4 linked regions of the Homo sapiens genome follow. The protein of the gene in region 4 purifies or fractionates together with the protein of the main gene of each other region. This does not show direct contact. Each region holds a gene or a part of one and is shown on either strand. Other genes may lie near its edges.

Region 1 (4,288 bases), on a different chromosome or scaffold from region 4:
ATTGAGTTCCCATCCCAGTGCTGTTCTTGGTAACTTTGGCTGCCAGACCATGGGCCACAGCACCTGAGACAGTCACACAGGCCCTTTTGCCTCTGCAGCTCTCTGTCTGAACAGTCATAGTCCCAGACACCTCCTCACTCCATCCTCACCTGTAACCTCACCTTAGCGCCTGTCTGCCGCTGCAAAGATCTGTGTGGCAGCAAAGATGTGGGAGGTGGAAGTAGGGAGTGAAGCTGTCTGCAGGCGCAGAAGGGTTTCTTTAGAGGCTGGGCTGCCTCCTGCTGGTGCTTGGTGCACCTGCCATTGGTGCCCAGGCCTCACTAGGCTGGGCCCTGACCAGAGCTCTCGAGCCCCAGCTGCTCCTCTCCAGTTTCTGTAGCGTGGTTTGGGTTGGTCCAATGAGGTGATATGACATATTCAAGGTCACACAGCAAGGAAGGGGCAGAGCTGGACCAGAGCCTGGAATCTCTGCCCGCTCCTTGTCTTCTGACTGGGCTGTGCTGCTTGGGCCCAGGGTTGTCCCAGGTCCTGCTTCGAGGAGGCGGCCAGGTCCTGCTCGGCTGGACACTCCATTACTTCCCGTTTTTCCTGATGGGCCGGGTCCTCTACTTCCACCACTACTTCCCAGCCATGCTCTTCTCAAGCATGTTGACAGGTCAGTGCCACCCACCTGGACTTGGGAGACAGAGCAGGTGGAGGGCGGGCCACTGTTGGGCAGCAGTGCTGGGAGTGACTCTGCTCCTTGACGGGAGGCCACTGTGGGGCAGCAGTGCTGGGAGTGACTCTCTGCTCCTTGACTTGGAGTGCCTCCTTCTTCTGTAGCCCAGAAGTCACCCCCTGCCTGGCTGACTCCAGGTTTCTCTCCTCTCCTCTAGGCATTCTGTGGGACACCCTCCTGCGGCTCTGTGCCTGGGGCTTGGCCTCATGGCCCCTGGCGAGGGGCATACATGTGGCGGGAATCCTGAGCCTGCTCCTGGGAACTGCCTACAGGTGAGCATCTCTGCACCTCACATGCCCTCCCAGTGTGGGCTCAGCAGTGCCTCAGCCCTGATGCATTCGAGAATCCCCTGCGGTGCTTTTAACACCACCAGTGCCCATGCCTGGAGGTTCTGCGTCACCCAAGCCCAGGTGGGGCCGTGGTTTCCAGAGTCCCCCAGGTGATCCTAATGTGCAGCCAGGTAGGAGAAGCAGGGCTTAACTCTGCCTTTTCCCCTTCTGCCGGTGGTTCAGCTTTTGTGCCATCCCAGCGCACCTGGAAGGGTACCCCTCTAGTGACAGTGACTCTGTGCCAGAACAGCTCTCAGAGGGGGAGTGTGGGAATGGGGGGCAGGGAACCCCTCTTTAGTCACCATGGCCCCCTGTCAGAACAGCTCTCCGGGTGAGGGAGGGGGGAACCGGGGGGCAATGGGGGACAGGGCACCCCTCTTTAGTCACTGTGGCCCCCTGCCGGAAGAGCTCTCGACGGGTGGGGTGGGAAGGGTGGGAATGGGAAGTGTGTGGCTGAGTGGCTGAAAGGGAGAGTTGTTTGGAAGGCTCCCCGCTTCCCCAGTCCCTGGCCTTGGTGCTGGGCCTGTGGCCTGTGAGCACATGCCTGCCTAAGAGGGTTACATTCACATGTTGACAAACACCCCTGGCCAAATAGCCCATGACAAGACCCCTAGAAGGGTTGCCCTCCTGGGCCTCTTGGGAAGAGCCCTTTCCATGATTGTCATTGAGTCAGCATCTACTAAGCTCTCCAGCTACAGTGTGCCCCAGTGGGACTCAGACAGACAAGGCCGTGAAAGAGAACCGGGCTTGGCGATGGGGAATTTCTCTGGAGCTCCAGCAGGAGGAATGGAATTCAAAGCCCCTCAGCTGAGGCACTGGGGGTGCCAACTGCCTCCTACTGGTTCTCTCTCACAGCTTCTACCTCTTCCACCCTCTGGCTTACGGGATGGTTGGTCCCCTGGCCCAGGACCCCCAAAGTCCAATGGCAGGACTAAGGTGGCTGGACTCATGGGACTTTTGAGGCCACTGCAAAGATTCCAGCCTGGGTCCAGGAACTTCCCAGGAGAGCCAGCTGGGAAGCAGTACTGGACCATCCGGCCATGAGGAAGCTGCCTAAGGAGCCCGAAGAATTCTGCTGCTCACCAGGACCCAGCTCTGGGAGTGCAGCTGGAATGGAACCCAGCATTGGAGAGAGCCGGGAGAGAGCCGCAGCTCCGTCCACAGCACCACGGAGAGGACAGCGCCTCTTGGGCTGCTCCCTCGTGCACAGCGCAGGGGAGGATGGGTGCCAGAGGGTGGGAGTGGGTGCGCGTGTGTGTATGTGAGGGCATGTTGTCCATATCCCTGTGGAATACAGACCGTGTAACTGGACAGCTGAGTGTCATAAACTCTAAAATAGTCCAGGCTATAGTAATATTTTCTGGTATTTTTTTCTGTTGGATTTCTTTGGTTTTGGTTTGTAAGATCCATCAAAAATTCTCAGACCTCTGAGAGGGCCTTGAGGGCAGAGAATACTGACCTCACCTTGGGATGTCACCAAAGGCAGAGCAGATGGGACTGTCAAAGTTGTGCTGCCCTCCCTCCCACAAACAAATGAATCCAGCGTGGAGGAAGGCGCGCCGCCCCGAGCTGGAGGGCCTGGCTCCCACCATGCCCCCCAGTGGCTGCAGGTAGCTGGACTTCCTGCCTGTGACGCACAGAGAGCAGCGGACTCCGGAGCGTCAGCCTGCCTTAGCCCTTGGTTCCTCGTTTTTTGGGATTGTCACACTGTGACACTCGGGAGGAACGATGTCCTATCCTGGGCTGCTCAGTGTTCCCAGGCCCTGTGTGCCAGAGGCCAGGTCTCTCCAAGTGCATCTAGCCTGGCCTGGAGGGCAAGGCAGATGCATTCTCCTGGCTGCTGGGAGAGCCCATGGGAACCTTGCTTAGCGCCCAAGGTAGATGAGAGACAGGGCAGGGAATCTGCGTGGTGCTGGGATGTGGGGACTCTGGCCTCTCCAGACTAATGTTCCTGTCACCTGCTGAGCTTTCCCAGTGTCACTTCTGCAGTCCTCCTCTGCTCACCCCTCCCTCACTCCGTGGGCAATTCCCTTTCTCTCTGTCACTGCTTCAGCAGTGAAGACCCATGGCACCTAGAAATGCATGCCAGCTTCCTGCGTCTACCACTCTGCAGCTCAAACAAGAAGCTCAGAGCTGCCCCTTCCACTTCCTCCCCAAAAGGGATGAAGAAAACCCTGTGGTAGAACCAAACCACCCAAGGCCAGCCCTTAAGCCTGCCTCCACCTTCCTGGTGCATGACAAAATATTTCTTTTGTCTCAGAGGACTTTGATGCTTCAATATTTAATGATGAATCCGCCACACTCCATTTTCCCTCCTCTGAAGCTCCCAACAACTCTGACAGGGTCAGATCTCTTTAAAGCATCTTCAGGAGGCGGTTGCCACGGAGACTGGATATTGGTCCCAGGGACAGGCTGTGCTACCTACTGGGTGGTGGGGAGGGAAGCTTCTGGCCATGCTTGGGCATTCAGACCAACCATCATTAATGTTAATAGAGGAAATGCAGCAACGTCAAAAGCAAGGCAGGTTGGTTAATTAGATCTGGGGCCCGATGACCTCCCTTTCCCACTGCTACAGCCCTTTTGACTTCCCCCAGCAGGAAGCGCTGTCTGTGCGGCTGAGTCTGGGCCACTTGCTTAATTGCATTTCTGGCAGGGAAGGAGAGGAGGGATGGAGAAGCTCTGCTCGCTGCTTCCACCTCACCGTGTGTCCTCCCCTCCCCTCCCTTCCTCTCCTCCCCACAGGCGGAATTGCTTTCTTCTGAGCCGGGTGGGCTCTCCTGCAGGGAGAATGCAGGGGTCTGTGCTTGGCTCTTAGCAAAGCAGGTGGCCCACAGTGACCTCCAGGAGGTGGCTGATTTTCCTTTGTGCCTTCTTATTTCTCAGTAGGAACTTGGAAGGGAAGAGCTCTGAAGGAGCCAGAGGGGCAGCCACCTTGCATGAGGGTGAGGAAGGAGAAGCCCAGCCAGCCTCTACCCATCCCTCCCTCCCAATTAGGCTGCACTGGGGCCGAACGCTTCCCTGGGCTCCCACTGCCTTCTAAGGAGCCAAGGAGAATTCCCTGCCCACTTTCTGTTCCTCCATGCCCAAACTGGCAGATGCTTCTCTGGGAGCAAGGCCACATGGGCTGATGCAGCTTTGAGTGCTCAGGTTCTGTTTTCTGGAAGTTGCTGGAGAAGGGCTGTCAGGGTGCTTCTATGAATATGGGCTTCAGCTGTAGCACTTGGCAGAAACGTGATGTGTC
Region 2 (4,288 bases), on a different chromosome or scaffold from region 4:
ATTATAGGCGTGCACTACCATGCCCAGCTAATTTTTGTATTTTTAGTAGAGACAGGGTTTCACCATGTTGGCCAGGATGGTCTTGATCTGCTGACCTCGTGATCCACCCACCTCAGCCTCCCGAAGAGCTGGGATTATGGGAATGAGCCACCGCACCTGGCCCTCAGCCTCCCAAAGAGCTGGGATTACGGGAATGAGCGACCGCGCCCGGCCCCAGGTTTTTATATTTGGCAAAGGAGAGAACTGCATACCATTTCAGTCGTAAAATTATTAAAGCTTTCTTTTTTCTTTCTCTCCACCCCCTGCCCACCATATCAAATAGGGTTCTCCTTCCTTCTAATCTACAGATTTTCCTTTGGTTGCCATCTTTGTATACTTCTTAACTCTCCGTTTGATCAAAAGATAGTTTTGGCTGGGCATGGTGGCCCACGCCTGTAATCCCAATACTTCAGGAGGCCAAGGTAGGAAGATGGCTTGAAGCCAGGAATTCCATACCAGCCTGGGCTACAAAGCAAGACCCTGTCTTTACAAAAAATAAGAAAACTTAGCTGAGTGTGGTGACCCACACCTGTAGCTGCGGCTACTCAGGAGGCTCAGGCAAAAGGATCCCAGGAGTTTGAGGCTGCAGTGAGCCATGATCACTCCACTGCACTCCAGCTTGGGTGACAGAGTAAGACGCTGTCTCTTAAAAAAAATTTTTAAAGTAGTTTTAATAAATGGTAAGCCCTGGGGTTCTCTCTCCCTTTGCTTCTGGCCCTTCTGGTTTGGATTGAATAAAATCAAATCTGTTTTAAAAGAAGCCAGAAACGTGAAGAGTTTGCCCCCTCCCCTCCCTTGGTCTCTCACGTGTAGCAGCTGGACATGTTGCTGGCCTCTCAGGAAGCTCCGTGCCACGGGCCCCTGAGGTTGTCCTGTTAGTGTTTGGGGGACCCATTGCCAGTCTTCCCAGGCTCACATGCAGGCTCATGGCCAGTGTGGTGCCACCTTTGGGAAAGCCGGCCATGGCTTCTCCCAGCCCCCAGGGTGGGGTTCGGCGCAGGCGTCCACAGCCCCATCCCACCATTCCTGGGAGCGGGGGCTTTGCTGGCCACTCGAGCCCTGTGTCCCAGCAGCTGTACTACGTTCAGTTTCTTGCCCTCCCGGGGCCCCTGTCCACCACTCTCCAGCTTGGTGCCTCCCACCCAGCTAACTGGCACCCCTCAGCCTCCCATTCCGTCTTCTTCAGCCGGTTCCCTCGGGGCCAAGCCTGGGTTTTGCTGACTCTCCTGCCAGATTTAGACTGGGGGGCAGGGGCCATTTACCACCCTCCATTGCCCTCGTGGCCCAGGCCTGGTCAGACTCAGGGTTCTGCGACTGAGATCCTTCTGCCTAGAAAAACATTCACAGAGCTGGAAGTGTCAGATCACTGGTTACAGTATGAAAGATTCTCAAGTGTGATTTTTTCTCCAAACTTTCCATCTTGATGCGTTTTCAGATTTGTAGTAGTGCGACTAAGACAGTAGTTCAGAGAATTCTGCTAACCCTTTACCCGGATCTCCCAAACGTGAGCGCAAGCGTGACTTTCGAACCTCAGGAATCTGTTTCCACTTTTCCAGCATGCGTGGAGTGGCAGTGCTAACGGCTGGTGTCTCGCACTGTTGGCCTGTGAAGGTACGTGAAGCTGAAAGCCTGGAATGGCTGGAAAGGGGTCATCAGGCAGGCGGCCCCTGCTGCTGGGGCTGCTGGTGGCCGTAGCCACTGTCCACCTGGTCATCTGTCCCTACACCAAAGTGGAGGAGAGCTTCAACCTGCAGGCCACACATGACCTGCTCTACCACTGGCAAGACCTGGAGCAGGTGAGGGGCCCCTGCTGTCTTTGGGGAAAACCTCATGTTACCAGCTGGCAGGGCCCCGGTGCACTGACCTGCCCTTCTCCTCGCAGTACGACCATCTTGAGTTCCCCGGAGTCGTCCCCAGGACGTTCCTCGGGCCAGTGGTGATCGCAGTGTTCTCCAGCCCCGCGGTTTACGTGCTTTCGCTGTTAGAAATGTCCAAGTTTTACTCTCAGCTAATAGGTAAGGGGGTCTTCAACAAAGGAGGAGGGAGTGAGGGACTGTGGTGTCATCGGGTGACCTCAGCGAGGCCGCGGTCCCTCCTGCCCAGGAACGCTGTCTGTTAGTCTTGCCTGCCCTCGATCACCGTGGCATGGCGGCTCAGAGCAGGTGCTCAGGTCAGGCCTAAGACGTCTGAGTCAGCCCCTCTGTGCCTCCACACTCTTGACTGTGAAATTAGGGGTGACGGCAGGTACAAGAGAAATGCCGACTGCCTGTGAGGCAGCTCTCGCCACCTGAGCCTGCTGCTCCCGCCTCACCTGGCAAGCCCCCATGGGGTCAACAGCCTTTATTCCTGCAGAAGCAGCACCATTTGCCTTGGGGAATGTTACAAACAGAAACCTCACATTCCCAGAGGCCACCACTGCAGGGCCTGTGTGCAAATCCTGGGTCTTTCTCTGTGCCCACATGAGGACTTTAAAAAAAAAAAATTAGAACGTTTTGTACATATTGTTCTAAAAACCGATTTTTTTTTCTTTTTTGAGACAGGGCCTTGCTGTGTCACCTAGGCTGAAGTGCAGTGGTGCAATCATAGCTCACTACAGCTTTGAACTCCTGGGCTCAAGTGATTGTCCCACCTCAGCCTCCCACAGTGCTGGGATTACAGGCATGAGCCACCACGCCCAGTCACACAACCTGAGTTTTTGAAGTCAGCAATCACCACTTTTTTATTTCAGTACGCTTTTATTGCTTTTAATACCCAGACATGCTTCCAGCGAGTCAGTCCAGCTTGTGTGGAGAGCTTTAAGAAGTAGCACGTTCCTGGGGAAGGAGCAGTTCTGCTTCTTGAAGGGGCAGATTGGGAACGGAAACCCACCATGGCACGGGGACAGCTGGACAAGCCGTGCATGTCCTGTAGAGGCATCAGGAAGCCCCAAATGGGGAGGAGTTGGGGGGCCACGAGCCAGGGAAAGGAAGTCCACAGGCAATTCCGGGGCTGAGTCCACATTCCCTTGGAAGCTTCTGCTTATTCCAGGGTTGGCAGCAAGAGGTTGGGAGGTTGGGCAGAGCTGGGTGGACTCCAGCTGGACAGAACCTTGGAGGGCTGCAGCTTCAGCTGGTGAACGGGAGCCCACCCTGTGTCCTTCCTGATCCCACTAAGGTGACCTGGAATTGCTAGTGCCCCCCCCAGCCCCTGCCACAGGCCAAAATCCTTCCTCTCTGGATGAAGAGCATGTCATCCTGGGGCCGAGGGTGATCCCGGGGCCGAGGGTGATCCTGGGGCCAGGCTGATCCCGGGGCCGAGGGTGATCCCGGGGCCGAGGGTGATCCCGGGGCCAGGCTGATCCCGCGGCCGAGGCTGATCCCGGGGCCGAGGGTGATCCCGTGGCCGAGGCTGATCCCGGGGCCGAGGGTGATCCCGCAGCCGAGGCTGATCGTGAGGCCGAGGCTACCCTTGTTGGGCACGGGGTTGAGATTGTTGGGCATTTGGGAAGATGGAAAACCAAGAGAAGAGACGCAGGGGATGGACCTGATGGGGAAAAGGGGAAGCGGGGCTTTGCTGGGGTCTGTGAATTGTTTAAAAGCCCGGGGGAAATTCCAGCACCAAAAATACAGCAGCTGGAGCCAGACCCACTTGTGAGTATCAGTGAAAAATGTCCTATTAAGACATTCAGACTGGGCATGGTGGCTCACGCCTGTAATCCCAGCACTTTGGGAGGCCGAGGCGGGGGGATCACCTGAGGTCAGGAGTTTGAGACCATCCTGGCCAACATGGGAAACCTTGTCTCTACTAAAAATACAAAAATTAGCCGGGCGTGTTGGCATGCGCCTATAATCCCAGCTACTCCGGAGGCTGAGGTAGGAGAATTGCTTGAACCCGGAAGGCAGAGGTTGCAGTGAGCCGAGATTATGCCACTGCACTCCAGCCTGAGCAACAGAGGGAAACTCTGTCCTTAAAAAGAAAAAAAAAAAGACATTTGCAGTCCGAATCCAGCAATCAGTGAAAAGAAAATGCCTGGTATGCACATGGGGTATTCTGGGAACAGCAGGTCCAGCCCTCAGACATCCGTGGCCCCCTTGGCAGTGCCTGGGTATCTCTGCCCATTGGCCCCCACAGCTGCCTGGACCCAGTTGCTTCTCACATGGCTTCGAAGTTCCTCTGGCCTTCTGGAAAGGTAGCAAGAGCCACCCAGAAGTTCATTTTTCTTCCTGTTTTCAGTCTCTTGCCAGCGGCTGACAGGCCGGTCCACGGTGAG
Region 3 (4,288 bases), on a different chromosome or scaffold from region 4:
CAGAGATGTATCCTCTGAAAGTGTTTTTCAAATTGCAAATTGTGACCCACTAGTGGGTTTTGTCTAGCATTTAAAATACAAAAACAAACCAGAATAAACCAGAATAGAAAATATCTTTTTTTTTTTTTTTTTTGAGAAAAAGTCTTGCTCTGTCACCCAGGCTGGAGTGCAGTGGCAGGATCTTTGCTCACTGCAACCTCCGTCTCACGGGTTTGAGTAATTTCCAGGTAATTTTTGTATTTTTAGTAGAGACAGGGTTTCACCATGTTGGCCAGACTTGGTCTTGAACTCCTGAACTTAAGGGATCTGCCCACCTTGGCCTCCCAAAGTGCTAGGATTACAGGTGTGAGTCACCGCGCCCGGCCAGAAAATATCACATTTTCTGTTGTGATACTGAAAATCACAAATTGTGGGTGCACTGGGTATAGTAAGGGCATTGTTTCATAAAACTTTTGTGTCTATTTTATGTACATGTGTGTTGCAAACTCGGTCATGATATAAAATATATTTTCTTACCATGGGTGATAGTCAACAAAGGTTGAAAAACATTGCTTTAATACCTGCTTTTCTCTTTTCTGTTTTGCCTCAAAACTTCTTGATACGCTACTTCTATAGAAGCTTGGAACCAAAAAAGTTAATGATGATAAAATTGATAATAATGATATCAAGAGTAATATTTACTGAATATATACTACGTACCAGGAACTGTGCTGTTTTACTTTAATGATCTCACTTAATCTGTACAACCCAATGAGTATTATTAATTTCCATTTTATAGAAGAGAAAACAGATTTAGAGAAGTAAAATAACTTGATTTAGACCTAGGTCTGTCTGACTCAAAGCCCATGCTTACCATATAAACTGCAGACAATGGATCTCCTAGATAATCTAAAGAGTAGATGATTCACTTGGTGATAAACACAAATTAAATATTATAATTTTAGAAAGGTTTAGAGCCATGATCCTGTGATGCTACATTGTCTTTTAAATTCACTTATTGTTTTGGTTTCAATTGATACTGCATATTCCTTAAAACTAGTTGTTTCTTCCTAGAGATATATTTTTTAATTTAAAGGGTTTATATGTAGACATGACATATGATGTGTTTTATTAATTCTCAAATTTAAAGATCCCTTTAGAACCCTAAATAGTATAAAATTGTAAGTGGCAGAATACCATATAAACAAATGCTGTTTACCTCATGGGTTTGTTGTGAGAATTCAACACTTACAAAAAACACTGATTAAAAATACCACTAGTATCGGTCACACAGTAAATGTTCAATAAATGTTTATATATTATAATAATCATACAAGAAGATAGTGAAGTCTACAGTTTTTTTTGTTTTTTTTTTTTTTTTTTGCTGTATTTTCCCTCTATTTTATTGTTTGTCCTTGGGAATGGTCCAAAAATTTTGCTACTTCACTTTTTATAGAAAGAGGAATTTAAAGTGTTTCTATAGCTATATATTTACAATGAAAAATCATTCAGATAGTTCAGTTCACAATGCAACTGACCATCTAGCAGCTTGAGTTCAAGGTTTATAAACACAAATGCCTACCAGCCTAAGCAGATAACCTGAAAGAGAAGTGGGATGGTGAAGGGCGGGTTGGCTTAGGTTGTATGAATGCAGAACAGGGTAGAGTACTCTTTCTAAAAGTGGATATCACCATTCAGCAACTGAAGATTTTATGCCATGCAGGAATATAATAGGGTTTATACTGTCAGATTTTCAATTGAAGTCAGAAATCTGAATGTCTGGGAAATTCTTGATTCTTAAATGTTGGCATAAACTTAAATAATAAAATGCTTTGTGGGCCAAACAAAACAAGCCTATAGACTAAATGCAGTATATAGACTGGCAGTTTGCCACTCAGCTTTAGTTTTATCCTATCACTTAGATATTCTAAGCTGACCAACACAGCCTAGGTAAGAATATTATAAACTACAAACTTTCAAACAGTGTCCAGTGGAGTAGGGAGAAGCATCCCAGAAGATATACATTCTGCAAGTGTAACTCCTCCTCTTTTTTATTTTAAAAGCTTTGGAAGATGTACACTAGCTTTCTTTGGATAAGCTATTGCTATTCTGAGAAAAAAATTTCACAAGAGGCTGGGCGTGGTGGCTCACACCTGTAATCCCAGCACTTTGGGAGGTTGAGGCGGGTGGATCACCTGAGGTCAGGAGTTCGAGACTAGCCTGGCCAACATGGTGAAACTCCGTCTTTACTAAAAATACAAAAAATTAGCTGGGCGTGGTTGCAGGTGCCTGTAGTCCCAGCTACTCGGAAGGCTGAGGCAGGAGAATCACTTGAACCTGGGAGGCGAAGGTTGCAGTGAGCCGAGATCACACCACTGTACTCCAGGCTGGGAAACAAGAGTGAAACACTGTCTCAAAAAAAAAAAAAAAAAAAAATTTCACAAGATGTCCTAGACAAAAGCCTGTGTGGACGGAGAAGTGATTTCAAGTTAAGGACAAATAATCATAAATGCATAAAGAAAAAGTGAGTATGTTTATCTGACTTCTGGAGAAAATTTGCATTCAAGATTGAAGAAGTAAAAAAAATTTATTATAGAAGGAAATGCTTGCATTTGATAAACTTTTATGATATAAGTTTCATATAAGTATGAAATGATACTTTTAAGATGTTTTATTATAAGCTTATTGTAAGCACTATAAGATATAAGTATCATTTTATAACTCCTTATACTTTTATAGGAGCATAGCGTCTTTCATGGGGATGAGCTGGTTAGCCCATAAAGTGAAAATTTTTACACAAAATTACCTTTGCAAATCCCTCAAATCACACTTAGTAAAGGAACGTGGTTTTGTGTATATCATACCACATATTAATACATTCAAACAATTAATTTTTACTTAATAATTGGAACAGATAATGTTTCTTCAATTATGTATGAATGAAGCACAGCTAAAATTCTCAACTCTCGCCCACTTAGGCCAGTTAAAGTGAATGACTGTAGTGTGGTTTTGTAGCGGGGACAAACTAACCTGAAAAGCTAACTTTTGCTAAATACTAGAAAAAGCTATCAGTTAAAATACCCAGACAAAAAAAAGGCACTGAGTGACTTCAATGCCTAAAGGAACCAGAGATGTGGAAATACACAGTGAACAGTCCTGTGGGTATCTTTCCAAACAACACAGTAACCAAAAAATATAATTGAATGTTCTCATTAATACAGTTTCTGGTAACCTGAGTGTTGACCCCATTTCTAGGCAAAGAGAAATAACTTGCCCAACCCTGTTGTGAGGGAGACCCAAAGGTATTTTACTTCTGACCTAAATGTAGTCTCAAGTTTACTTTATTTCTGGGATGTAAGTACAGTGCAACAGGTAAGAATTTAAATCTGTTTGATTTTCATTATAAGTTACTAAATTGGCATGCCAGTTTATATGTGAATAATTTCACTAGGACCTAGTCATTTCTTTTTTTTTTTTTTTTTTTTTTTTTTGAGACGGAGTCTCGCTCTGTCGCCCAGGCTGGAGTGCAGTGGCGGGATCTCGGCTCACTGCAAGCTCCGCCTCTCGGGTTCACGCCATTCTCCTGCCTCAGCCTCCCAAGTAGCTAGGACTACAGGCGCCCGCCACTACGCCCGGCTATTTTTTGTAGTTTTAGTAGAGACGGGGTTTCACCATTTTAGCCGGGATGGTCTCGATCTCCTGACCTCGTGATCCGCCCGCCTCGGCCTCCCAAAGTGCTGGGATTACAGGCGTGAGCCACCGCGCCCGGCCGTCATTTCTAAGTAAAATGAAAATACCATGTTTTTAAACTTCTATAGCTAAAGATTGGTTTAAACACCAAGGCAGATGCTAAAGCTCTCCTAAGGCGCATAATAAACAATAGGTATATGTTTGCTACAGATTAAAAGTGTTCATTTAATGGAGCAGATACAACCAAGAGCTGGTAACTATAAACTAGTCACAGCGGTAACTTTAATCACAATCAACAGGCTCAGGGACTCACATATAACTGTGTGGCTGACAGATTGAACAATTATGGAAGGTGTTTTCTGTGGTTGAATCAATCAGAATAGTAATAATGGTAGGATTACTGAAAAGAAATTAACCTGTACTATAATCTGGGGTCAGATTTTTTTTAAAAAAGGATATAAGCGGTATTCATGACATCATGTTAATTTCAGTAATCAGGCAGGGTGAATAGACTTGACAAATTATGTCAGCTCACTTTAAACAAACATTGGTTGCTAACATAAATTAGCTCTTGGAAGGTAAAAAATTATTTGGTTAACAAATGACTGATAAGACAATC
Region 4 (5,077 bases):
TGAAAAAAGAACACAGGCCCAAACATGAATATAAAGTATGATCTCATGAGAGTATAAATCATTTCTACTGGTTCAACTTCAAATAATATTTGAACTGCCAATTATTTTCTTTGGAAAAAGTTTAGTTCCGTAAGACAGCATATTGCATATTAATTATTTTGAAATTGAAGTAAAATTCAAATAACATAAATTTAGCCTTTTTGTTTGTTTCTCCGTCACGCAGGTTGGAGTGCAGTGGCGTGATCTCGGCTCACTGTACCCTCTGCCTCCTAAGTTCAAGCGATTCTCCTGCCTCAGCTTCCCGAGTAGCTGGGACTACAGGTGCCTGCCACCATGACTGGCTAATTTTTGTGTTTTTGGTAAAGATGGGGTTTCACTGTGTTGGCCAGGTTGACCTTGAACTCCTGACCTCAGGTGATCCACTCTCCTAGGCCTCCCAAAGTGCTGGGATTACAGGTGTAAGCCATCGCGTCCCACCAGAATTAACCCTTTTAAAGTGTACAATTCATTGACATTAGTACCTTCCACACTGTTGTGCCACCATCACCTCTCTCTAGTTCCAGAACGTTTCATCGCCTCAGAAGGGCATCTGTACCCATTAGCAGTCACTCCCTACCCCTCTTCCCTCAGCTCCTGGCAGCCACCAATCTGCTTTCTGTCTCCGTGGATTGCTTATTCTGGGTGTTCCCTAGAAACAGAATCATACACTATGTGGCCTTTTGTGTCTGGCTTCTTTCACTGAGCATGGTGTTCCATGGTTCATCCGTGTTTGTAGTGTGTGGCAGCACTTCATTCCTTTTTATGGCTGAATCATAGTCCATTGCATGGACAGAGCACATTGTGTTTGTCCATTCCTCAGTTGATGGACATGTGGGTTGTTTTCATCTCTGACTGTTGTGAATAGTGCTGCCATGAACACTCGTGTCCAAGTTTTTGCGTAGATGTGTGTTTTTATTTCTTTTGGGTAGACACCTAGGAGTGGAACTGACAGGTCATGCTAATATGACTTCTTGAGGACCCACCAAATTGTTTTTTTTTTGTTTTTTTGGTTTTTTTTTTGAGAGGGAGTCTTGCTCTGTCACCCAGGCTGGAGTGCAGTGACGTGATCTCGGCTCGCTGCAACCTCCACCTCCCTGGTTCAAGCGATTCCCCTGCCTCAGCCTCCCAAGTAGCTGAGATTACAGGCATGTGCCACCACACCTGGCTAATTTTTTTTTTTTTGAGACCAAGTCTTGCTCTTGTCCGCCAGGCTGGAGTGCGATGGCGCGATCTCGGCTCACGGCAACCTCCACCTCCTGGGTTCAAGCGATTCTCCTGCCTCAGCCTCCCGAGTAGCTGGGATTACAGGCACCCACCACCACGCCCTGCTAATTTTTGTATTTTTAGTAGAGACGAAGTTTAGTAGAGATGGGATTTCACCATGTTGGCCAGGCAGATCTCGAACTCCTGACCTCAGGTGATCCACCCACCTCGGCCTCCCAGAGTGCTGGGATTACGGGCATGAGCCACCACGCCCGGCTAATTTTTTTGTATTTTTAGTAGAGAGGAGGTTTCACCATGTTGGCCAGACTGGTCTCAAACTGACCTCAGGCAATCTGCCTGCCTCGGCCTCCCAAAGTGCTGGGATTATAGGCGTGAGCCCCTGCGCCTGGCCAATTGTTTTCTACAGTGTCTGCACCATTTTGTATTGCCACCAGCAGTGAACTGCATATTTGTTTTTATGTCACAGTGACCCTGGTTTTTGTTTGTTTGTGTGTTTGTTGTGGATTTTCTTCCTCCGTTATAATTAGATGCTAAGAGGATGGGGACTCCTATCTGATGGTTTTTGGGGAGTGGGGAGGGTTTTGTAGTCAGCACCCTGGGCAGTTGCGGTCACCATATTTGCTTTGTAAGCTATACTTTGAGTAAGTGTGATCATGGTAGGCCATGTGTACGCCTGTGGAAGTTAATTTATGTTATCTCTTTAGGCATAGTTACACCAAAAGTGATCTATGAGGAAGCAACTGACCTAGACAAATTCATCACCAATACAGGTATTTAATGTTACACTTTGACGTCATTTCTTCAGAAACAGATATGTCATTTCTTACAAGTAATATATACCCTCAGAGTGTATATTTTTGTTAGTCATTTAAAAAGGTTCACAATAGTTAGAAAGATCTGCCAGGAACATTTCATTTGTTCCTCGTTCTGTCCTGCTGGGCTTTAGAGTGCTCTCTGTGACCTTGAGCCTGCTCCTCCACAGTCCTGGATTCTCTGAGTTCCACCGACCCTTCTAGTTCCAGCTTCCGTGAACCTTTCCTTAAATGTTTGATAGTTAAATAATTCTTTTTTTTTTTTTTTTTTTTTTTTTGAGGCGGAGTTTTGTTCTTGTCACCCAGGCTGGAGTGCAATGGCATGATCTCGGCTCACTGCAACCTCCGCCTCCTGAGTTCAAGTGATTCTCCTGCCTCAGCCCCCTGAGTAGCTGGGATTATAGTCACCCGCCACCACACCCAGCTAATTTTGTATTTTTAGTAGAGACGGGGTTTCTCCCTGTTGGTCAGGCTGGTCTCGAACTCCCGACCTCAGGTGATCCACTTGCCTTGGCCTCCCAAAGTGCTGGGATTATAGGTGTGAGCCACCGCGCCCGACCAGTTAAAAGAACTTTTTAGGGCACAGCATTTTCACTTTTTGCTTTCTTTCCTTTTTTTTTTTTTTTTTTTTTGATAATTAAACTTTCCAATTGTGATGCAGCCAAATAAGTTACGTAGAGTTTGGCAGATTTTTTTTTTTTTTTTGAGATGGATTCTTGCTCTGTCACCCAGGCTGGAGTGCAGTGGTGTAATCTTGGCTCACTATAACCTCCACTTCCTGGGTTCAAGCAGTTCTCCTGCCTCAGTCTCCCAAGTAGCTGGGATTACAGGTGTTCACCACCATATGCCTGGCTAATTTTTGTATTTTAGTAGAGACGGGGTTTCACCATGTTGGCCAGGCTGGTTTCGAACTCCTGACCTCAGGTGATCCACCTGCCTTGGCCTCCCAAAGTGCAGGGGTTACAGGCGTGAGCCACGGCGACTGGCTCAGTTTGGCTAATTTTACCAGAACTTTAGTTTTTAATGAAGGATACTGTTTGTTTCTTTCTTTTCTTTTTTTTTTTTAATTGGAGACAGAGTCTTGCTCTGTCGCCCAGGCTGGAGTGCAATAGGGTGATCTCAGCTCACTGTACCCTCCACCTCCCAGGTTCAAGCAATTCTCATGCCTTAGCCTCCTGAGTAGCTGGGATTACAGGCACCTGCCACCAATCCCGGCTAATTTTTGTATTTTTTTGTATTTTTTTTTTTTTGAGACAGTCTCACTGTCACCCAGACTGGAGTGTAGTGACACAGTCTCCACTCACTGCAACCTCTGCCTCCTGGGTTCAAACGATTCTTCTGCCTCAGCCTCCCGAGTAGCTGGGATTACAGGTGCCTGCCCCCATGCCTGGCTGATTTTTTGTATTGTTAGTAGAGAGGGGGTTTCACTGTGTTGGCCAGGCTGGTCTTGAACTCCTGACCTCGTGATCTGCCTGCCTCAGCCTCCCAAAGTGCTGGGATTACAGGCGTGAGCCACCGCACCCGGCCTAATTTTTGTATTTTTAGTAGAGACAGGGTTTCGCCATGCTGGCCAGGCTGGTCTCGAACTCTTGACCTCAGGTGATCTGCCCACCTCGGCCTCCCCAAGTGCTGGGTGTCTCTTTCTGATGTGTTGTACTTCTCAAATTTATTCATTGGCTCATCAAATGTTAGTGGAGTTCCTACGCCGTAGTAGGGAACTAGATAGCGGGCCCCTGCCCTGGCGGAACTGACCCTCTGGTCTTTCATCTCACAAACATTTTACCAAGTGCATGCTCCATGGCAAGCTATGAGCCAGGTGCTGGAGATATAGAAATGAAAGGAACAGATCTCATTCTGGGTACTGTGATGGCATAGAGGAGGCAGCTAATGCTGACTTGGTGGGACCAGGGCAGGCTTCCTCAAGGAAGCAGTGACCGTGCCATGTTAGGGAGCTGGAGATAGGGAGGGCAGGGGCAGGGCACTTGGGGAAGGCCACGCAAGCAGAGAGAACCTCCCAGTAACAGAGTCAGGCTCAAAGAGGGTCTTTAATTTATGAACATATTCTTGTATTTGCAGAAACTCCTTTAAATAACGGATCAACCCCTAGAATTGTGAATGTGGAAGAACATTATATTTTCAAATGGAATAATAATACCATCAGTGAAATAAATGTTAAAATTTTTAGGGCAGAGATTAATGCCCACCAGAAAGGTAACTTTGATGAGGGTAGCAAGCATGCTTTCACTGAAAAGTATTTTTTTTTCCTCTTTTCAAGATTCTCATAATTATAACCCATAAAACTAAGTTGGACTTGTTTCTTATGTGCATTTATGATTTAATTAACGAGAGTACACTTTGTATGACAAAATGCAATTTTAAGGTAAACACTATGGAGAATAATTTCTTTTCCTAGTGAAATGGTGCACATTATATTTTATTTTGTTTTATTTCTAGGGATAATGACACAGAGATTTGTAGTAAAATTTTTAAGCTATAATAGTGGTAATGAAGAAGAATTATCTGGAAATCCAGGTAAGATGAGTATATGCCAGTCATTGATCTTACAAACATACTTTAGTTCAACACTCCCAGCCATCAGGATGGTTATAAGTAACTCTCTCCAATTTAGTTTCTGACTCTGACCTTTTTCTTTATTTTCTCTTTTTCTTTTTTTGAGACGGAGTCTTGCTCTGTTGCCTAGTCTGGAGTGCAGTGGCGCAATCTCGGCTCACTGCAACCTGCACCTCCTGGGTTCAAGAGATTTTCTTGCCTCAGCCTCCTGAGTAGCTGGGATTACAGGTGCACACCACCATGCCTGGCTTTTTTTTTTTTTTTTTAATCACACAACACAGGAAGTTTTATTCATCTGCTACTTCTCCAAAGAGAGGCTTGCAGGGTTGCTCACTTTAATATAATTTTTATATTTTTAGTAGAGATAGGCTGTTGTTCACCGTGTTGGCCAGGCTGGTCTTGAATTCCTGACCTCAAGTGATCCCCTGGCC

The links. Proteins that work in one complex are often made in the same cells at the same time.
Region 1: the proteins of TCTN2 (region 4) and POMT2 purify together in Homo sapiens (affinity purification with mass spectrometry; 2 studies listed by BioGRID and IntAct, with this or other methods). This does not show direct contact.
Region 2: the proteins of TCTN2 (region 4) and ALG12 purify together in Homo sapiens (affinity purification with mass spectrometry; 2 studies listed by BioGRID and IntAct, with this or other methods). This does not show direct contact.
Region 3: the proteins of TCTN2 (region 4) and TCTN3 purify together in Homo sapiens (affinity purification with mass spectrometry; 3 studies listed by BioGRID and IntAct, with this or other methods). This does not show direct contact.

The regions. Positions count from the first base shown.
Region 1 is NC_000014.9:77,275,096-77,279,383, reverse strand, and holds part of POMT2 (protein O-mannosyl-transferase 2), read left to right. Parts: intron 1-514; coding exon 515-655; intron 656-875; coding exon 876-990; intron 991-1,902; coding exon 1,903-2,008; 3' UTR 2,009-4,288. UniProt on the Homo sapiens protein: Transfers mannosyl residues to the hydroxyl group of serine or threonine residues. Coexpression of both POMT1 and POMT2 is necessary for enzyme activity, expression of either POMT1 or POMT2 alone is insufficient.
Region 2 is NC_000022.11:49,911,151-49,915,438, reverse strand, and holds part of ALG12 (dol-P-Man:Man(7)GlcNAc(2)-PP-Dol alpha-1,6-mannosyltransferase), read left to right. Parts: intron 1-1,595; 5' UTR 1,596-1,673; coding exon 1,674-1,835; intron 1,836-1,921; coding exon 1,922-2,054; intron 2,055-4,288. UniProt on the Homo sapiens protein: Mannosyltransferase that operates in the biosynthetic pathway of dolichol-linked oligosaccharides, the glycan precursors employed in protein asparagine (N)-glycosylation.
Region 3 is NC_000010.11:95,676,140-95,680,427, forward strand, and holds part of TCTN3 (tectonic-3 isoform a precursor), read right to left. Parts: intron 1-4,288.
Region 4 is NC_000012.12:123,690,691-123,695,767, forward strand, and holds part of TCTN2 (tectonic-2 isoform 1 precursor), read left to right. Parts: intron 1-1,967; coding exon 1,968-2,033; intron 2,034-4,151; coding exon 4,152-4,286; intron 4,287-4,529; coding exon 4,530-4,607; intron 4,608-5,077.